Linked DNA regions of Homo sapiens. The protein of the gene in region 4 purifies or fractionates together with the protein of the main gene of each other region. This does not show direct contact. Each region holds a gene or a part of one and is shown on either strand. Other genes may lie near its edges.

What was found. The genes of interacting proteins can lie anywhere in the genome.
Region 1: the proteins of TNNI1 (region 4) and MYH7 fractionate together in Homo sapiens (co-fractionation; one large-scale study listed by BioGRID). This does not show direct contact.
Region 2: the proteins of TNNI1 (region 4) and MYH3 fractionate together in Homo sapiens (co-fractionation; one large-scale study listed by BioGRID). This does not show direct contact.
Region 3: the proteins of TNNI1 (region 4) and MYH6 fractionate together in Homo sapiens (co-fractionation; one large-scale study listed by BioGRID). This does not show direct contact.

Annotation. Positions count from the first base shown.
Region 1 is NC_000014.9:23,418,444-23,423,052, reverse strand, and holds part of MYH7 (myosin-7), read left to right. Parts: intron 1-727; coding exon 728-873; intron 874-2,004; coding exon 2,005-2,095; intron 2,096-2,818; coding exon 2,819-3,208; intron 3,209-3,443; coding exon 3,444-3,570; intron 3,571-3,757; coding exon 3,758-3,876; intron 3,877-4,609. UniProt on the Homo sapiens protein: Myosins are actin-based motor molecules with ATPase activity essential for muscle contraction. Forms regular bipolar thick filaments that, together with actin thin filaments, constitute the fundamental contractile unit of skeletal and cardiac muscle.
Region 2 is NC_000017.11:10,654,293-10,659,701, reverse strand, and holds the start of MYH3 (myosin-3), read left to right. Parts: upstream 1-2,392; 5' UTR 2,393-2,413; exon of another isoform or gene 2,414-2,466; intron 2,467-3,553; 5' UTR 3,554-3,612; intron 3,613-4,629; 5' UTR 4,630-4,637; coding exon 4,638-4,841; intron 4,842-5,409. UniProt on the Homo sapiens protein: Muscle contraction.
Region 3 is NC_000014.9:23,398,057-23,402,665, forward strand, and holds part of MYH6 (myosin-6), read right to left. Parts: intron 4,547-4,609; coding exon 4,408-4,546; intron 2,922-4,407; coding exon 2,653-2,921; intron 2,371-2,652; coding exon 2,200-2,370; intron 982-2,199; coding exon 672-981; intron 1-671. UniProt on the Homo sapiens protein: Muscle contraction.
Region 4 is NC_000001.11:201,408,231-201,413,541, reverse strand, and holds part of TNNI1 (troponin I, slow skeletal muscle), read left to right. Parts: intron 1-420; coding exon 421-510; intron 511-2,008; coding exon 2,009-2,185; intron 2,186-3,106; coding exon 3,107-3,214; 3' UTR 3,215-3,216; intron 3,217-4,291; 3' UTR 4,292-5,311. UniProt on the Homo sapiens protein: Troponin I is the inhibitory subunit of troponin, the thin filament regulatory complex which confers calcium-sensitivity to striated muscle actomyosin ATPase activity.

The DNA of each region.
Region 1 (4,609 bases), on a different chromosome or scaffold from region 4:
GCCATAAGACTACAAGCTTCCTTTAGATAGGAACTTAGATCTATTCAATTTGGGGACTGCAGTGCTTAGCACAGAGCCTGATGCCCAGTAGGTGTTTATAGGATGCTGAAAGAATGAATACGGCGGCCAGCCGCGGTGGCTCACACCTGTAATCCCAGCACTTTGGGAGGCCAAGGCGGGTGGATCACGAGGTCAAGAGATCGAGACCATCCTGGCCAATATGGTGAAACCCCATCTCTACTAAAAATACAAAAATTAGCTGGATGTGGTGGCGTGCGCCTGTAGTCCCAGCTACTCAGGAGGCTGAGGCAGAATAATCCCTTGAACCAGGGAGGCGGAGGTTGCAGTGAGCCGAGATCGCGCCACTGCACTCCAGCCTGGCGACAGAGTGAGACTCCATAAAAAAAAAAAAAAAAAAAAGGAGGAAGGAAGGAAGGAAGGAGAGAAAGAAAGGAGAGAAAGAAAGAAAGAAAGAAAGGGAAAGAAAGAAAGAATACGGCTTTGGGGTTTCATCCCACAGTCATTTATTCCTTTATCTATAAAATATTGATTCAGCATCCCCTATATCTAGGCAATCTCACAGTCCCCTAATAACATTTGGCCCACTCTGGGGAAGGTTTCCCAAGTCCTGAACACAAAGATTTACCAAGTCCTGAGGTAACTGAACAACAAAATCACCAAGTCAGGATGCTTTGCCTCACTGGGCCTGGCTCCTTCTCTCTACCAGCTGGAAGGATCCCTGGAGCAAGAGAAGAAGGTGCGCATGGACCTGGAGCGAGCGAAGCGGAAGCTGGAGGGCGACCTGAAGCTGACCCAGGAGAGCATCATGGACCTGGAGAATGACAAGCAGCAGCTGGATGAGCGGCTGAAAAAGTACTGTGTCCCCTCCCTGCTGCCCTTCCTCCTCCCCAGCCCATAACAGTACAAGCAGACCCAAGACAGCCATCCTCTGAGGCAACAACCTCACGCAGCCTCCACAAGTGGAGGCGCAAACCATGGGAAAAGGCCTCCCAGGCAAGGGCTTTCCTCCCCTAGTCCCAGATATCAGGGTTAGTTAGATGGTCCTCCCTGGCAAAAAGTCCATTGTATCCCATGAGTCCTTTCTTCTTGTTAGGCACTCAGTGGGAATGAAAATAACAGCCTTCCCCCTTCATACACATCTCTCTTTGGAGACCAGTTCCTTGACATGGAGGAAGGCTCCACATGAGAGCCTCTTAGGAAAGTCCCTTTGTGGCTTTTCACAGAGAGCCCACAGGGCACCAAGAAATGCCCTCACATTAAAGAAGTCAGGGGATCAGGGCCATTTCTTTGTTTTGCTTAACTTGTGGTTCCAATTCTTAGTGTAAGTTCTTCCAAAATGTATAGACTTTCCAGACTTGGTAAACAGTGAGCTTGCAGAACATATTTTGATAATTGAAGGTCTTATGGTGTTTCAGGCTCAGGACTTTGAAAGGCTTTGAGAATCATCATAATCTACATCCTCATCAAGTTTGTGTTTGCACAGGAATCTTCATACCTTCCCAGGCACAGAATGTGTTGAATAAATGAATAAATACACGATCCTATTTGATTCTCAAAACACCTTTTAAGGATGGTATCTTTAATTTCACTTTACCAAAGAGGAAAATAAGTTTCAGAAAGGTTAGCTGAGTTACCCAAAGCAATAGTGACAAAATTAAAGACCATCAGAGCTAAAAAGGACCTTTGAAACAATCTAGTCCGACCCCCTCATTTTACATTATGAGAAAACAAGGACCAAAGATGGGAATGTCCTGTAGAGCCCAGGCCCCATCACCCTGTCTACAGCACTCCTCCCATTACATTCTTGTTGGATTTCAATCTCACCGCAGGTGTTACACTTCCAGGGATCCTACATCACCCCCAGAAGCTGTTTTTCTAATGAAATCCTACTCTTTACCTGTATCATTACCATTTTCAACCACTGGTGGACCCTCCTGAGGCCCCACGAGTCTCCCTTACCTCACCATCCCTCCTTCCCCACAGAAAAGACTTTGAGCTGAATGCTCTCAACGCAAGGATTGAGGATGAACAGGCCCTCGGCAGCCAGCTGCAGAAGAAGCTCAAGGAGCTTCAGGTGAGGTCTGGACACCCACGCGGGATGCTGAGTCCCTGGGCTGGTTCTGTTTCCCCTGCCCCCTCCTCTAGGGTGTCCTGTTCACAGCATTACAGGAACTGATTATGTGTCCATGGAGGCAGGCACGCAGCTATCACAGTGTGCCCATGGATACATCCAAAAGGGGTCAGGTGATCCACAGAGACCCTGAAAAGGTCACAGGCCTGGAGGGCAGAATTCCTGGCTTCCTGTCTCAGCTCTGCCTTAGTTGGGTGACCTCTGGGAGCCCACTCCAGATCTCTGGGTCTCCATGCCCTCCCCTGTTACATGGAGGTTTTTAAGAGTCCTTCGACTCTGATGGCATGACTTTCCTCCTTACTCTAGAGCAGAAGCTGTGTTAGGTCTTTAGTTGTCTGGTCAGACAAATACGGCTCTCTCATTTTCAACTTTTGTTATTTTTTTATGACTAAACTGCTTAAAATATCCCCAGAACACAGGTCTCTTTGTCCATCTTTAAGAGCAAGTTTCAACCACTTTCCTTCCAATAAAGAGCATGTAGACTGTCAGGCCCTCGCCTAAAGGAAGGCTCTTCAAACTATCTTCCCCAAATCCTTTAATTCCCACCTCTCCACTGGAAGAGCTAAACTGACTTGCTGTTCCAGAGAAGCCGAGAGCCTTTTAGAGCCGGGGGGATTCCAGTGGAGGGGTCCAGGCGGTGGGTCTGAGCCCTTTGTGTCTGACCAGGCACGCATCGAGGAGCTGGAGGAGGAGCTGGAGGCCGAGCGCACCGCCAGGGCTAAGGTGGAGAAGCTGCGCTCAGACCTGTCTCGGGAGCTGGAGGAGATCAGCGAGCGGCTGGAAGAGGCCGGCGGGGCCACGTCCGTGCAGATCGAGATGAACAAGAAGCGCGAGGCCGAGTTCCAGAAGATGCGGCGGGACCTGGAGGAGGCCACGCTGCAGCACGAGGCCACTGCCGCGGCCCTGCGCAAGAAGCACGCCGACAGCGTGGCCGAGCTGGGCGAGCAGATCGACAACCTGCAGCGGGTGAAGCAGAAGCTGGAGAAGGAGAAGAGCGAGTTCAAGCTGGAGCTGGATGACGTCACCTCCAACATGGAGCAGATCATCAAGGCCAAGGCAGGCTCTGCTCGGCCTCCCCTCCTCCAACTTCCTCCTCCCACCTCCCCTTTCTGTCCATGTAGTGTCTCTTCCTTCATGGTTCATTTTCCCACTTCCCTTCCTCTGCCTGGTTCTCAGATCCCCTCCTTCTTTTCACACCTTCCCTCTTCTTTTCTCCTTCAGTTGCACCTCTTACACCCCTTCATTCCCCCCGCCCCCAACATCCATCATATAACTCTCCTTCCCTTCTCAGGCTAACCTGGAGAAGATGTGCCGGACCTTGGAAGACCAGATGAATGAGCACCGGAGCAAGGCGGAGGAGACCCAGCGTTCTGTCAACGACCTCACCAGCCAGCGGGCCAAGTTGCAAACCGAGAATGGTGAGCCTAGAGCAGGGGCTCCATGGTTCCCACCACAGTCTCCCCAACCTCCTGAGCCACTCCAGCCTCGGGCACAAGCCAATACACGCACACACAGACACAGAGTCTCTCCAGAAAATGGGGCCTGAGGGCTAGAGGAGGAGGTGGGGATAGAGAGGAGTGCTGATCTAGAATGGTGCTTCCCCAGGTGAGCTGTCCCGGCAGCTGGATGAGAAGGAGGCACTGATCTCCCAGCTGACCCGAGGCAAGCTCACCTACACCCAGCAGCTGGAGGACCTCAAGAGGCAGCTGGAGGAGGAGGTTAAGGTAAGGGCTAGACTCGGGCCACCTGGCCCAAGCAAGGAGCACACTGACTAGCCTTGCATCAAATCACTTCCCTTCCCAGCAATAAGGCTGGCTGTGGACCAACAGTTCTCCAAGAATTCTAAAAAGAAATCACAGCCCAAACCCTGCCACATGCCATCTACTCCCCAGGCTGAGGCCCTCTGCTTCTGCTGCATCCCTGGACGGGAGGCAGGGTGTGAGAAGGAGGAGAGAAAATGAACTAGGGAGGCACGAGATGGCCTTGCCCGGGCACGGCTAGGGGATGTAGGGACTGCACAAATGGGTCCTGGGATTTGCAGGGCCACCTGAAAACTGGAGAAAGAAATTCAACTGGAGCCTATTCCTAGCACTTTGCTGGACTCATGAAAAAGGAGAAAGAACATGATTTTTAAAAAACTCCAGGGTTCATACTAACCTGCCTCTTATAGCTCAGTGATCTTAGGTTAGGGAAGTCCCCTAACCTTTCTGAGCCTGTTTCCCTCTCCCCAGCCAGGTAAAATGGCGGTGATGATGACCATGTCTGGTGTGGGGAGGAGCTCAGGGCCAATGGCCATGAAGCTTTTCTTAAATAGTTCACTGCTGTATTGGCATTCTTTGTTATCAGCAAACAGTAAACCATGACAGGTCCACTGGGGGTTTGGACATAGATGAGGCCAAGGGATGATGTTGAGATTGGGGTGAGGAGAAGGGCAAGGGTGGGGTTGCTTTATGGAGA
Region 2 (5,409 bases), on a different chromosome or scaffold from region 4:
CATGGGTGCCTTTCTGGTCCACTCAACACCTTTGATCTTGTACCACACAGTTCATCTGGGGGAACGTGTCTTCCTCTTCTCAGCCCTACAGACGAATGCCTCTTTGAAGGCAGGGACCAGGCCATCTCCATGTGGAGCACTCTGGAAGTTCTGGGTTCTGTGCCTGACACATAAAAAGTGTCCAGTGATGTCTATATTACTGAAAAATAAATACGTAAGATAGGAGGAATGATCCAGACTAAAAGAAACTGCCAAGATCTCACAGCTGAACACTCTAGGAGTCTGTGACGTTTTCTCCTAGATTCACTTATATTTGTTTGCTGAAGATGAAGAATTCTGATGAAGAGAAGGAAGGAAACAAGGACAGTGTGGAAAGCCAGGCGAGAAGCCATCAGCATTTTAGAGCTTGTATTAGGTCCTAACGTGATATGGGTGCTCTCTTAAGGGAACTAAAAGAAATGTTGAAGGGAATATTTCTTTTCTGTCTCCTGGAGGTGAGTATGGATGTAGTTATATAGATAGATGAGTACATTGGTCACTGCAAAAGGGAAAAAGCAAAATTGCCCCCTATTTCATTTCCACACAGTTCCTCCTGTCAACAGGTCTGGGTGTTGACGTAGGAACTGCAAGTTCCCACGTCCACCCCCGCCACACCCACAGCCTGCCCTGCATACACCACTGCTGGAGATGTAGCCAGGACAGCTTGCCCTGTCCCCTGACCCCACGGACCTTGTTAACACCGCTGCTCCCCTCGGTGATATTTACCTGTCCGTGGCTGTCCTGACCAATACTCCCAAGGAGACAGTGCATCACTGGGCCAACAGGGCAGAGCCCCAGGGGACCACTCCCTTTACGACATGGACGGACACTTTAGGAGTGACGGTTACCCTCTCCTTGGATGAGGAGGGGCTCCAAGGATGGACATGTCAGTCTCACCTGGAGGGAGAGGGGCAGTGGGTGGGGGCAACGCTCAGTGGCTGGTGGACAGGCAAGGGGTGAGTGAGCCCTGCCCAACTGACTCCATTGGCGGCCACTGGCCTTGCCTGGCATTCACGGAACAGGCGCTTCATAAACTTGTTGCTTCAATGTGAAATCACCTCAATTTTGTAAATGCGTCTGTAGCATCCACAGGACTCATCATCTAGAATTCAAACCCTTAAGGGTAAAGGCTGCGTCTTCTGTTTCCTCTGCGTCTTCTCGAAGCACTGTGTGTAAGGGCCAGAGCACAGAGGATGTTTCATACACGTGCCTTTGCCCTGAGACCGCAGCCCTGCCTCCCCGGTCCCACGCAGACCTCATGGAGTGGCCTCCACTTCGGGGCTTGGTACTGCTGTGTACGGAAGGGGCGGTTTCTATGGGAAACATGGACAAACAGTTCTATTTGGAATAAGCAACCACAGGGTGCCCACCCAGCCATCCTCCCAAAGATTTGTCAAGAAAAAAAAAGTAGAACGAGAATGGGCAAAAGCGTCCGACATACTTTACTCTTCTCTTGAGGCTTTATTTTTCCACTCCTGATTTAGAGATGACCACATTTGTTAGACAGCCCCCCCTTGTCCGCCCTTTCTCTGCAGGCCACCACCGTTCCCCCTACCCCATCCCAGCCAGCAGCTGGTCTTTCCTAATTGGTAATCTGTCTTAATAGCCACAGGTCCTCAGGCAGCTGTCGCCGGGAATACGAGCTGGCAGCATAGATCCACGTCACTAACTTAACTGGCTGGTCCTATTAGAGCTTAAGAAAGAATTAAGTTAATAATGATACTAATGAGACAGAACGTTGCATAGGAGAAAATAAGAGAAAGAAGGAGAGGAGTAGAAGGAGGAGAAGGGAGAAGAGGGCAAGGGGGGAGGGGAATTATTGCTATTAATTATTATTATTATTAATTATTCCTGGCACAGGTTTTGCAATCACAACCCAAGGTTGTGATAAAATCTTGCTCAAAATTCAAAAAGGATTTCAACTTTTCACTCTCAGTCTTATTCACTTTTCCATATGATGAGATTTCTAAGTAAGCCACCCGACTTCAGTCCTTGGTGCCCAATAGCTAGGGGCTCACGCCGCGTTCAGGGTGTGATGAGCGCCTGAGAACGGAGGTGGCTGCCCCCGCAACTCCTCCTGGAGTGAGGCCATCCCATCCCATCAGGGGAGGGAGCACCGGCCCCAAGTTCAGAGAAAGGCATCCCAAGCTCCTGACATTCTGCGGTCGGAAAATGGTGATGGATCCTGCTCATTTCTAATTATACCTTTCCCTTGGCAACGACAAAGATACGTGTGGAAGAAGCTGGTTCTCGGCTTGGGGGGGCCACTCATCCTCTTGCCAAATATAGAGAAGGAATGAGCCGCGGGGGTTACCAATGGCCTATAAAAGCCCCGGGGAGCAGCCAGCCCTCTGTGGCTCGCTTGTGGGCGGAGGTAAGTCACAGGCTCCTCTTCTAGGTCTCAGCTGCTTGGAGCACACCCACCCGGTGAGCACATCCACACCCCGTGCGTGGTTCCCTGGCCCTGCCTGGCTCTGCTGAGGTGGCGCCTCATGCCTTTCTGAGTTTTCTTAGGATAAGCAAGGTGTAGAGAGCGAGGTTCCCTGGGCCCAAACACCCAGCACCCTCTGGCTCCAGCACCTCCCCCAAGCAGGAGCCCTGCAGGTTCTCTCTCCTCCACACACTCTCCCCTGTCCTCCTCTCCAAGTGTCCTCTTGGGCAGGATCCTTTTGGATGCCCCGTGAGCCCAGCTGCCATGGCTTGACCTTCTCCCATTGCCTCTGTGACCCATGAAGGGTCAACAGGACTGGGGACCTCACTCTGCCCTCACCTTCCCCACCTGGGCTGTACATCTGCCAGGTGTCTTGTCCTCTCAAGACCACACTGGCTGTGGGCATTGCGTGTAAATTAATCTCAGAGATATTGCCTGTTCACAGACAAGGAGACCTGCCCCTGCCCTCGAACTGTTGACTTTAAGCAGGGATGCGGTCCCTGCTGTCCGATTCTAAATGGGAGTGAGGAAGACTGAAGAAGGTGCCAGTGCAGGCTGAGAGAAACCAGATTTCTGCACAGCTGAGGGTTTTTCCTCCCTGCCTGGCTTCCTGTGGGTCACGTCCCATCTGCTCTTCCATCTTCCAGCCTGCCTCTTTAAAGTATTAGTCTTTTTTTTTTTTTTTTTTTTTTTTGAGACAGAATTTTGCTCTTGTCGCCCAGGCTGGAGTGCAATGGCACAATCTCGGCTCACTGCAACCTCTGTCTCCCAGGTTCAAATGATTCTCCTGCCTAAGCCTCCAGAGTAGCTGGGATCACAGGCATCTGCCGCCACGCCCAGCAATTTTTTAAATTTATTTTTTATTTTTAGTAGAGAAGGGGTTTCACTATGTTGGCCAGACTGGTCTCAAACTCCTGACCTCAGGCCATCTTTCCGCCTCGGCTTCCCAAAGTGCTGGGATTACAGGCGTGAGCCATGGCGCCTGGCCCCTTTATCCTTTTTAGTTAACTCGTCAGAAGCCGATTCTACATGGACGCAGCCACCCCAAGTGCCGCTAAGTTGTGTATGTGCATATTCTTCCAGGTCTGGGATCTCCTGGCTGTTGCTGTCTTCTGCTCTCATCCTGCAGGTGGGACTCTCAGGTGAGAAGTTGGGCCCTGTCCCTCGGCTGTTGGAGATCTCCAGGCAATCCAAGCTTGCCAGTTCCTTTCTCCCTCCTCCCACCGGCCATAAGGGCACAGAGGGACAGGGGAACTAGCACATTTAGACAAGGACAGGTCGTGGCCGGGTGCAATGGCTCACACCTGTAATCCCAGCACTTTGAGAGGCCGAGGTGGGCAGATCATGAGGTCAGGAGTTCAAGACCAGCCTGACCAACATGGTGAAACCCCGTCTCTACTAAAAATAGAAAAATTAGCAGGACGTGGTGGCAAGTGCCTGTAATCCCAGCTACTCAAGAGACTGAGGCAGGAGTATCGCTTGAACCTGGGAGGCAGAAGTTGCAGTTAGTGGAGATCGTGCCACTGCACTCCAGTCTGTGACAGAGTGAGACTCCATCTCAAAAAAAAAAGGCAAGGACAGGTCAGGCGGGAGAGGAGGTGGCATTTGGGGGACTGTCAAACAGATGCTGATGTCAGATGCTTGATTTTGTTCTTAGCAACCCAAGGAAGCAAAAGGCAGGTTCCCGCATACGAGCGTGTAGCCACCTTGATTGAAATGGTTCAAAAATATCTTTGCTGTTTGCCATTAGCACACTCTCTTTGAAGATGGCGTTTATTTTTTAAGGGTGTTTATTTTTAAACGTTCCCTCAGCAACACCTGGTTGTCACAGAAGCGGAAAAGGCGGTCCCAAGAGTGGTGCTCACTTCCAAACCCCTTATCGCCAGTTCAAGCCTCAGATGCTTGAGGAGCTTGGGTTAAATAGGCTGTAAGACTGTCGCACAAGAAGCCCCTCAATAAATATGCACCCGTGTGATTTCCCAGCACTGAAGCCCTTTGGGTGGAGCTTCTCAAGGCATGAGGACAGCCTGGTTCCTGGGGCCCTGACTCTGAGGGCTCCTGCGGCTGAAGGAGGGCAGGGTGGAGGCTGAAACAGGCCTGGAGCTGCTGGGTGCCTGGCAAGGGGGCTGCTGAGCTCACCGGGTGGGTTTGCCTTCCAGCTGACACCATGAGTAGTGACACTGAAATGGAAGTGTTCGGCATAGCTGCTCCTTTCCTCCGGAAGTCAGAAAAGGAGAGGATCGAGGCTCAGAACCAGCCCTTTGATGCCAAGACGTATTGCTTCGTGGTGGACTCAAAGGAAGAATATGCCAAGGGGAAAATCAAGAGTTCTCAGGATGGGAAGGTCACTGTGGAAACTGAGGACAACAGGGTAAGGCTCTGTACCCTCCACAGGCTGCTGGCCCTCCACCTGGTCCTTGTGCTTGCCTGGGGTATGCATCTGCCCAACCCCAGCCACTTCCAGATGTGGTTCCAGCACTGGAATGCCGCATACAATGTAGCCTGGGGCTTCCCAGGTATCCTCAGAGAAAGCAGAGTGAATACTGGCCTCAGGTTCCAGGGTGGGAATAGAGTCTGGCTGTGGCTGATTAAAACAATTAGTTTTCAGGTATTTTTGTCCACGTTCACTGTAGGCCAGAGGGGCCCAGCTCCACGTGTCCCAAGGGTGTGGAGTTGGGAGTTCAACATGAATGAGCGCTGTTTCAGAACACTCTCCTTTGGTAGCCTAGATTTGTCCCAAATTATTCTATCAATGGCCATCTAACCAAGGAAGTAAGGAAAATGTGTTAGGGATCCTAGGGGACCACAAGCTCAGTGAAATAGCAGCCTCCTTGTATCATGAAGGGGATGAGCACTGCAGCCCATTACATTCTGGCCCAAGCCACTGTGGGGGTGCTGCGAGGAATTCTGGAGCTCACTAGTTTCTAAAATCCACATCA
Region 3 (4,609 bases), on a different chromosome or scaffold from region 4:
ACCCATGCTGGAGTGCAGTGGTGCAATCTTGGCTCACTGCAACCTCCGTCGCCCGGATTCAAGCAACTTTCCTGCCTCAGCCTCCCAAGTGGCTGGGACTACAGGCAGGTGCCACCACGCCAGGCTAATTTTTGTATTTTTAGTAGAGACGGGGTTTCACCATGTTGACCAGACTGGTCTCGAACTCCTGACCTTGTGATCCACCCGCCTCGGCCTCCCAAAGTGCTGGGATTACAGGCGTGAGCCACCGTGCCCAACCTCTACTTTTCTTCTTACACTTTATCCTCTTCATTTCAAGCCACATCCTTTCTCTTCCTTTTCTGAACTGGAGGCTCTTTTGTTCAGTGTCCTCTCAACATTTGTTGAGAACTCCCACATGCATCGTTCCCTGCTGGGCATGGTACAGGGATGCATGTGCCACCCTCACTGACCTCCAGTTACTCCCCATCTTGAGGAAACATGAGACAGCTATATCAACACTCATAACACAAAGTGGAGAACGGCAGGTGCTACAGAAGCCCAGCTGGACTGTGGTGAGGTGAGCCAGGAGGTGGCTTGACTCATGGGCTCCCCTGTGCCTGCCTATGGAGTCATGTGCTTTGAAGCAGCAGGACCCTGGCCCTTTGTGTCTTCAGAAGTCCCCTGGCCCAGTGCAGGGGCTGCCTGCTTACCAGTATCGGCAGTTGCGTAGGAGGAGAAGAGAGTGGCCATGAGCTTGAGGGAGGACTTCTGGTACAGGGCCACAACAGTCTCGTTGAGAGGATCCTTGTTTTTTTCCAGCCAGCCCAGGATGTTGTAGTCCACAGTGCCGGCGTAGTGGATCAGGGAGAAGTGGGCTTCCTGCTTCCCCTTGATGTTGCGTGGCTTCTGGAAATTGTTGGACTTGCCCAGGTGGTTGTCGTACAGCTTGGCCTTGAAGGTCATGTCAGTGGCCTTGGGGAACATGCACTCCTCCTCCAGGATGGACATGATGCCCATGGGCTGAGGGCAGGGTGAAGAGGCAAAGAGAGAATCACTGAGCACACTCCCAGGCTTCCACAGTCCCATACCCTGACAGGAAAAGGAATCTGGAGCCAGTAGCGCTGGCCTGCTGAAGGGGCGCTGTGCTGGTACCTCTTACCCTAAAACAGGAAGCCAATATTCCTGGAATTTAAAAAGCCCCTTCCTCCTCCTTTCTGCCCAGTGGGTCCAACAAAGAGTCATGCACTCCTAATCACCCCCCACAAGGCCCACAGTGCCTCACAGCACAGCCCCTTCTCTCTGATGGCTCACTGCCCCAGGGGCAGGAGGGCAGGGACAGATGTGTGTCAGAGGCACCGGGCCAGGCTCTGTCTGTATGACACCAGTAGCAATTCTTCAAGGGTTAGATAGAAGGATCCAGGTTCTTTACCACACTCTGCACTTCCAAAAACCTGGTGGTTCTTGATTTTTCTTGGGGCAGGAATCCTTTTAAGAATTTGTTGAAGCTAAAGACTGTCTCTCCAGAAAAACGCATGTACACACACACACGTACACACACACACATGCACAAGCACACACATGTATGTATGAATGTACACATGCTTTTTTCCACACACAGTTTTATGGCATTCTGAGGGCTCTGAAACATGAGAACTCTGGTTAAGAATCTGGATAATGACCCAAAGCATGTGGGGAAGCTCCCATTTCATGAAGGCCGTGGCTGGGCTGGGTGTGGGTCAGACAATCCGGGCTCTGGCCTATGCTGACAAAGAGCAGAGGTTCACTGAGAGCAAGTCAGCCCCAGCCTATGGGGCCTCCCGCCTGCGGCCTTGTCTCTTCTGAGGAATGCCCATAAGCAAGAGGGCTGGAGACTGGCTTATTTCTCAACCAACAGGAAGGTGGTGGGAGGCCAAACATCTCTAATTTCAGCCTAGGATCTTTCCATGAATGACGCTTCTCATGGGCGGTCAGAGGGGCCAGGGGCCTCTCCTTCACTACATCTCACTCTTAAGACACTGAGGGGACCACCACAAAGGGGCATAAAGTGCAAGGTCCTGGGAAAGGAAGAGTGGGGGGATCATCCTGTTCATGCCCATGACTTCACAGTGGGGAGAAGCTGGGCCTGGAGAAAGGCCTGGGATTCTTGGGACTCTAGTTTCTTGGGTGTAGAAGGGACTCAGCCACCACTTTGTCTGGATGGCAGAGGAGGGGGCATAGGTGGTGAGGCCAAGGAGGCACCTTCTCGATGAGGTCAATGCAGGCCTGCAGGTCCATGCCAAAGTCAATGAATGTCCACTCAATGCCCTCCTTCTTGTACTCCTCCTGCTCCAGCACGAACATGTGGTGGTTGAAGAACTGCTGCAGCTTCTCGTTGGTGAAGTTGATGCAGAGCTGCTCAAAGCTGTTGAACTGCAGGGGGCATGAGGGGTGGGAGCAGTCAGAAAGTGGGTGTGAGTGGCCATTGGGGCTGTGCCCGTGCACTGTGCCGAGCCCAGCAGGGTATGGCTGTCCCCTCCATGTCAGGGCAGTGGAGGAGGGCTTCCCCTGAAGACAGGGACAATGACTGCCTCTGTCACCACACAGTCCCCACTGCCTTCCCATGTCTGGTCCACAGCTGGCTCTCAGCAAATGGCTGTTGAATGTAGGAGCAAGCGAGTGATTGTTCTCCCACTCCCAGGGGTCCCAACTCACGTCGAAGATCTCGAAGCCAGCGATGTCCAGGACTCCTATGAAGTACTGGCGTGGCTGCTTGGTCTCCAGGGTGGCGTTGATGCGCGTCACCATCCAGTTGAACATCTTCTCATACACTGCCTTGGCCAGAGCCCCGATGGAGTAGTACACCTGCTGCACGCTCTGCCCCTTGGTGACATACTCGTTGCCCACTTTCACCCGAGGGTGGCACAGCCCCTTGAGCAGGTCAGCTGAGTTCAGCCCCATGAGGTAGGCCGACTTGTCAGCATCTGGTTGAGAGGGAAAGGATAAGTGAGCACTTCCTTTTTTTTTTTTTAAGATAGAGGCTTGCTCTGTCACCCAGGCTTGAGTGCAGTGGCACGATCTTGGCTCACTACAGCCTCCACCTCCTGGGTTCAAGTGATTTTCCTGCCTCAGCCTCCCAAGTAGCTGGGACTACAGACATGAGCCACCATGCCAGGCTAATTTTTGTATCTGTAGTAGAGACAGGGTTTCACCATGTTGCCCAGGCTGGTCTCAAACTCCTTACCTCAAGTGATCCACCTGCCTTGGCCTCCCAAAGTGCTGGGATTACAGGCATGAGCCACTGCACCTGGCCTGAGTGAACACTTTCAGGGAGTGAGCCTCCTTCCCTGTCCTGGGGCCAAGACTTTAGGAAGCATCAGGTCCAATTTCTTTTCCTTAAAGAGGAAGAAATCAAGGCCTGGAAGAGCACAGGGCTTGCCTTGGTTACTCAACCAACGTGTGCCTGAGTCAGGCTGGAGCACAGCCCCCTTATCCGGCCCATGGCCTCTTGCCACAACTGGCTCTTCTCAGCTCTGTCTCTACATCTGTGGCATCTCTGGGTCAGGTCTTTCACAAGCACTGCTGTGGGCATATCCCCACCTTCACCATATCCCTCGCCTCTCCAGGGCAAGGGTGTGGCTGAGGGGCTAGATGTCCTCTGCTCCCTGTCTCCTTCGTTCTCTACCCCAGTGTCTAGCCCTGGACTGGCCATGCTGTCTTCTCCATCCACATGTTACCCAATCTGACTGGCTGAGAGTATATCAGACAGTACCACGCTCCTACCCCCAGCCATCCAAATGTGCCACCCAACATGGGTATTTCTCTGTTTAGAGGAGGAGTTATTTGGTGTAATTTCAAGAATGTTGTAATAACTGTTGGTGTGTTATCATGAACCCCAGCTTGACACTTTGATCTGGGCAGACTTGGAGAAGGGTCCCTGAAGGTAGGGAGGAATGTTCTTGGGCACCTGTCTAGCACTGTTTGCACCTTCACATTTTCTCAAAGGACCTCACAGTAGCCACCAGAGGAGTGAGGAAAGATTGTTGATCCATTTCACTGAGGAGGAAACTGACACACCAATGCCCTGGGCTATGTCCTGACCCCTGGCCCACTGCCTCCCAAACAACATGGTATGAGCCCACGAGGGGCTTACCCAAGGGCTGGGCAGGCAAAGGCCCTGCATTAGTGATGGTGATGTGCAGAGCTCAGGGGCTGTGCTTCCTGGGGCTGGGGGAGTCTTGGGCACAGGAGGAAAATTCCCCACCTCAGTTCTGGTGAGTGCAGCTGGGGTTGAGGAGTTGGGATTGTGGTGGACTCTCTGTCTGCCCACGTCTCCCACGTCCCTGTCCCTCACCATCCCACAACACACCCCACTGCCCCACAAGCCTCAGAGTCTCTGGGATCTGAGTCCCGCAGAGAGCCTGGTCAGCACCTCAGGCCTTCCCAGGGCTGCCTGCCTGCCCCTCCCACCTTCGGTGCCGTCTGGCTCCGCCTGCTCCTCCCGCTGCTTCTGCTTGAACTTCATGTTCCCGTAGTGCATGATGGCTCCCGTCAGCTTGTAGACGCCAGCTTTCTCCTCTGAAGTGAAGCCCAGCACGTCAAAGGCACTCTGGGACAGAGCGAGAGACAAAGAGGGGGGTTGGAGCGGTGGCCCCAGGAGCTCCTGGGGTCC
Region 4 (5,311 bases):
AACTCCTGACCTCAGGTGATCCCCCACCTTGGCCTCCCAAAGTGCTGGGATTACAGGGATGAGCCACCGTGCCCAGCCAAGGATACTAGTTTTTTGTTTGTTTGTTTGTTTTTTTGAGACGGAGTCTCGCTCTGTCACCAGGCTGGAGTGCAGTGGTGTGATCTCAGCTCACTGCAACCTCCGCCTCCTGGGTTCAAGCGAAGGAATACTATTTTTTAAGAAATCATGACATTCAGACAGGAGAACAGAGGGCATACCCTTTGAGCTATTGCCCGTCATGAGCCTCAGAGTGGAGGAGACTGTCAGCTCCTCTCTGGATCCCAGGTCTTGCAAAGGGGCTGGGGAGAGGGTCAAGGGCTGGAAACTGATGTCTCTGTTCCCCTCTTCTTCACACCTGCATGATCCATCTGCGGCCCCCAGGACCTGTGCCGGGAGCTGCACGCCAAGGTGGAGGTGGTGGATGAGGAGCGATACGACATTGAGGCCAAATGCCTCCACAACACCAGGGAGGTGAGTCTAAGGAAGGGAAGGGGCATGGCCATAATGGGTTGGGCAGGGGCATGGGCACGGATGCAGCAGCCATGGGAGGTCCCCTCCTTCCACAGGGCCTAGGAAGGGGCCACTTAAGCAGGAAACTTTGGTTTGTCTGCCCTAGCCCCATAGGGCTGGAGATGGGTAGAGTGGATAATCACACATGAAAAGTACAAACTTCCTCCCTACCTGCCATGTGGGCTCATCAGCCTAACAGAAGCTGCTCTCTTTATCCACCCACACAAATAATCATATGCCTGTTAATAACGTCTTACCTTTGTGAAGTGCTTTCATGTTCGTTATAGCCTTTGATCCTCCTTATAGGCCTGTGGATGAAGTAGGGGCTATTATCTGCACCTTGCAGAGGAGAACACTCAGGATCAGAGAGGCCAAAGACTTGTCCTAGGTTGCACAGTGGTGGTCCTGGGACCAGTGCTGGTCTCTGGCTTCCACTCCGGTGCTCTGTGCTCCCTTAGCATGGGGTGTGGGAGGATTAGCTCCACCCAGACCCTGCTCCAGTGGGGAGGGGCAGAGCAGAGAAGGACAGGGCTCCTTTGGGGCATTTGTCCAGGCAGTGAGGAGGGGGCAGGGAGGGAGCACAAGCCACTTCTCTCCTTCCCACTTCTGCCCACCAGGAATTATATGTGGGGTCACCAAGCTCCTAAGAACTCCCCCTAGAGATCACACCCTGGGAATTCCTCCAGGGGTCTAGGACCTGTAAGTTTATCACCCTGCTGGACCAAGGCTGTGAGCTGCTTTGAAGGCTCACTGGGGAGGAATAAGTTAGAAGCAGGGATGAGGCTGCAGGAACAAGAGGAAGCAGCCCTGCACTCCAAATAGGGCTTCCAAATCAGACAAGTCTCAGTCTGGTGGAGCCGCCCCTTTTATTCAAGGCTATAGTGTTAGCAACGGCTAATAGGCTTTATCTGTCCACTTAACCATCCGTTTATCAGCAAATGTGCAGTGGTTATTTGCAAAGGGATGGGTGGGTCTGACTGTCCTAGAGCAGGGATCTCCAACTCTTGGGCTGTGGACCAGTACCTGTCCGTGGCCTGTTAGGAACTGGGCCACACTGCAGCAGGTGAGCAGTGGGCAAATGAGCATTCCCGCCTGAGCTCTGCCTCCTGTCAGATCAGCGGCGGCATTAGATTCTCACAGGAGTGTGAACCCTATTGTGAACTGTGCATGTGAGGGATCTAGGTTGCACGCTCCTTATGAGAATCAAACTCATGCCTGATGGTCTGAGGTGGAACAGTTTCATCCTGAAACCACCCCACCACCTCTCCGTGGAAAAAGTGTCTTCCACAAAACCGGTCCCTGGTGACAAAAAGGTTGGTGACTGCTGATAGGTCTGGCTTCAAGGGTGGACAATTTAAGGTGTATCTCTGGCTGGAACCCTAGCAGTCTGAGGTCCTCAGGAAGGGTGTCCTGTGGCTAGCTGCCTCTCCAGTGAGCCCCGGGCGCTTCTCACCTACAGATTAAGGACCTGAAGCTGAAGGTGATGGACCTCCGTGGGAAGTTCAAGCGCCCGCCCCTGCGTCGAGTCCGTGTCTCGGCTGACGCCATGCTCCGGGCCCTGCTGGGCTCCAAGCACAAGGTGTCCATGGATCTGCGGGCCAACCTCAAGTCTGTGAAGAAGGAAGACACAGAGAAGGTGAGGTCCCTTTCCTCAGAACATTCCACCCTCTGCCCTACCAGCTTTCCCCTTGTCAACCCCTCACATGGCCTCAGGCTGGCCCAGGAGCTCCTGTTGGAGACCAGTCAGCTTGACAGACAGAACATTCTAGAATGCTTTGGGAGACCAGTGTGGGAAGAAAGAAAGAAGATTTGCTCCCTTCCTTCAGGCTGTTCCCAGTCTGACGAAGAAACTAGGACATAAAGAAAGCTAGACCCCAGACGGAGAAATGAAGTAAAAATCTTGTTCCCAGTGTGAAGATAATGTGGAGATTTAGGGTAATGGTGGAGATGACTGCCTGGTCACCACAGGGAAAGGAGACAGCAGCTCATCTTGGTTATAGCCACACACGAGCATAGACATTAGAGAACTGAGTTCAACCACCCAGCAACAAATTATTCAAAGTTGGTTGAATTCACAGTATATGTGCCCCAAATTGATAGGCTCTGTAAGGAACAGGGATGAAGGAACAGTCTCTGGCCCAAGAAGCTTCAGAGGAGAAGAGATAAGCCAGACAATATACTGAGGAAATGGAAAAGCAGCCGCATTTGCAGGGGAAGACTTCTTGGAAGAGGTGGCCTTGAGCCTGCTGAGTGCCAGACCAGGAGGGTGGCATGGAGCCTTGGAGGAGGTTTTGCTGAGGTGCACTGAGGTGGGAACTAGCCCCATAGCTGCCACTTTCACCCAGTGCTCCCAAGCCACACAGCTTCCTTTTTCCTGTGGGGCCTCGGCTTGGCCTGTGTCCACCTGCCTGGCTGAGTCCTAGGACCTTACCAGCTGGGGAGGGGCATCAGGATTTCTTATCATCCGAGGAGACTGGTTTCCTATCACCCAGCTTCTCTTGAGCTGGGGGGCCGTCCAGCCTGGTAAGTCCCTGATGTGTGTGCCACTTGTCTACAGGAGCGGCCTGTGGAGGTGGGTGACTGGAGGAAGAACGTGGAGGCCATGTCTGGCATGGAAGGCCGGAAGAAGATGTTTGATGCCGCCAAGTCTCCGACCTCACAATAGAGGTACCTAGAGACCAGCTCCCTTCTCTGGGGTCCATCAGAGTCTAGAGGATAATGAGGGAGTCCACAATGGGCAGGCGGGTTGTACTTAGTGTGGTGCACGGATGCACGGACTAAGGCACCGATGAGACTGATTTGAGTCGGCTCTCCTGGGCTCAGTCCTGGCTCCAGCACCATGATACTTGGGCATGTCATTTCTGTTTGGCGGCCCTTTTTGTTCCCATTATCTATGAAATTGGGGGCTGTATCAAATCAGTGGTTCTCCAAGTGTGGTCCTGGGACCAGCAGCGTCTACATCACCTGGGATGCAAATGATCAGCCCCCACCCCAGATCCACTAAATTGGAAACTCTGGGGTGAGGCCAGCCTTCTAGGTGATTCTGATGCACATGAGAGTTTGAGAACCACTAGGTTAGAGGGTCCCTGGGATCCCTTCATCTCTGACTTTCTGAGAATCTATGCACTTTTAAATACCTCCTGGTGATGTCCTTTATTTGTGCTCCCTGCGAAGTACCCAGCACTCACAGTACCTGTTCCCAAGGAGCTACCACTCACAGAAGCTAAGACTTCCCACCATCTGAGGAAATAGCTGGAGAAACTGGGCAAAGCAAGGAAATCAGGCCACGTAAAACCCTCTACGGAAGTGCTGAGAGAATGTGCAATAGGGCAGGCATCCACCAGACAGCACTGGTCAGAGCAGGCTTTCTGGAGAGGAGGAGCTCTCTGAGGATGCGACGAGCGAGTGTTAGCTGATAAAGGGAAGGGCATGTTGAAGGGCTGATGGTGCAACAGAAGCATGGAGGTGGGAATTAAGCAGCCACAGAGTAGCATGGCAAGGCTAGGTAAGAGCTGAGGGCCGCAGTGTGGAGGAGCGGTGTGAGGGGTCCCAAAAGGGGAGCAACTGTGCCCGAGGGCCGAGAAGCTGAGGTTTTGTAGGAGCCCTTATGAATGAAGATCCAGTCCGGGGTGCGCTAGGGCTGAGAAGCCCTGGGGACTGCATGTGCTGTAGGTAAGTCAGGGATTCATGCGCTGCACACAGGTCCCCGGGAACTGATGGCTTTGCCTCTTTGTCCCTACAGGCCAGCTTGCTGTGCTGCGCTCTGAGCTCCTGCTTCATGCTTCTTCTCCAACCCAGCTCACTCACCTCTCTGCCTGTGTCTGGAGCATCCCTTCCCACCTCTCCCCCACTTCTTCCCTCCAGCCTGCATGCCCTCCTCTGGAACTGGGATTAAACAGATACCCAAGAGGCAGGAAAAACGCGAGTGTCTGAAGACCTCACCCTGGCAGGGTGGGCTTCTATCCACCCATGAGGCACCTGGGGCTTCTCAGCCACCCCGTGGTGTAACAAGTGGAGGAGGAGGAGGGGGTGAGAACACCTTTCCTCCAGCCCTGTGCCACACTCCTTCTATGTGTGTACAGTGTCCACAGGCATCACACCTTCTTCATTAAAAACCCAGTTTCCTGGTCATTTCTGCAGCTCTGACTGTGAGCCCTGAGAAGAAAGGGAAGACTTGGGGCTTGGGAAGAGAGGGCTGTGCTGGGCTCCAGTCACCCTGTCTGCAGTCCGGAGCTCGGGATCTGAAGGGAGGGCTAAGGAATTGGTGGCTGCTTGCCAGGGTCCCCTGGGGCCCCTTCTGCCCAGTCCCTGTGACGTCACACTGCACACACTCACCACCCAGGATGCTCAGCTCACCAGAGCCCTGACCTCCGAGAAATGACCCCGTCCTGCCCCTGACTCTGGCCATCAGAAGAGGCCTCTCCATTAAGAGCCGCTTCTCCTGCCGGCTTTCATACTCTCCTTCCTCTGCAAACCTGGATTAACTCTCCCTGATGTGTGCTGGGTTGAGAGGTCAGGGCACTTTCAATCCCTCACCTAGTCCTGCTGCACAGGGCAGGAGGCCTCACAGAAGAGATACTTGCAGTTCCAGGCCTGGCCACCAGGTGACGCCTTCCTTCTCTCCTGGGCTCTCCTGTCCCTCCGGCCTCTGCTCTCCCCACGTTCACCCACCCTCCTCCCAATTGTTTCCCCTTCACACTCCTGCACTGGTCCTATCCCCCAGGACTGATTCTTTCCCGGAGATGGGGTGGCCACTTATCTG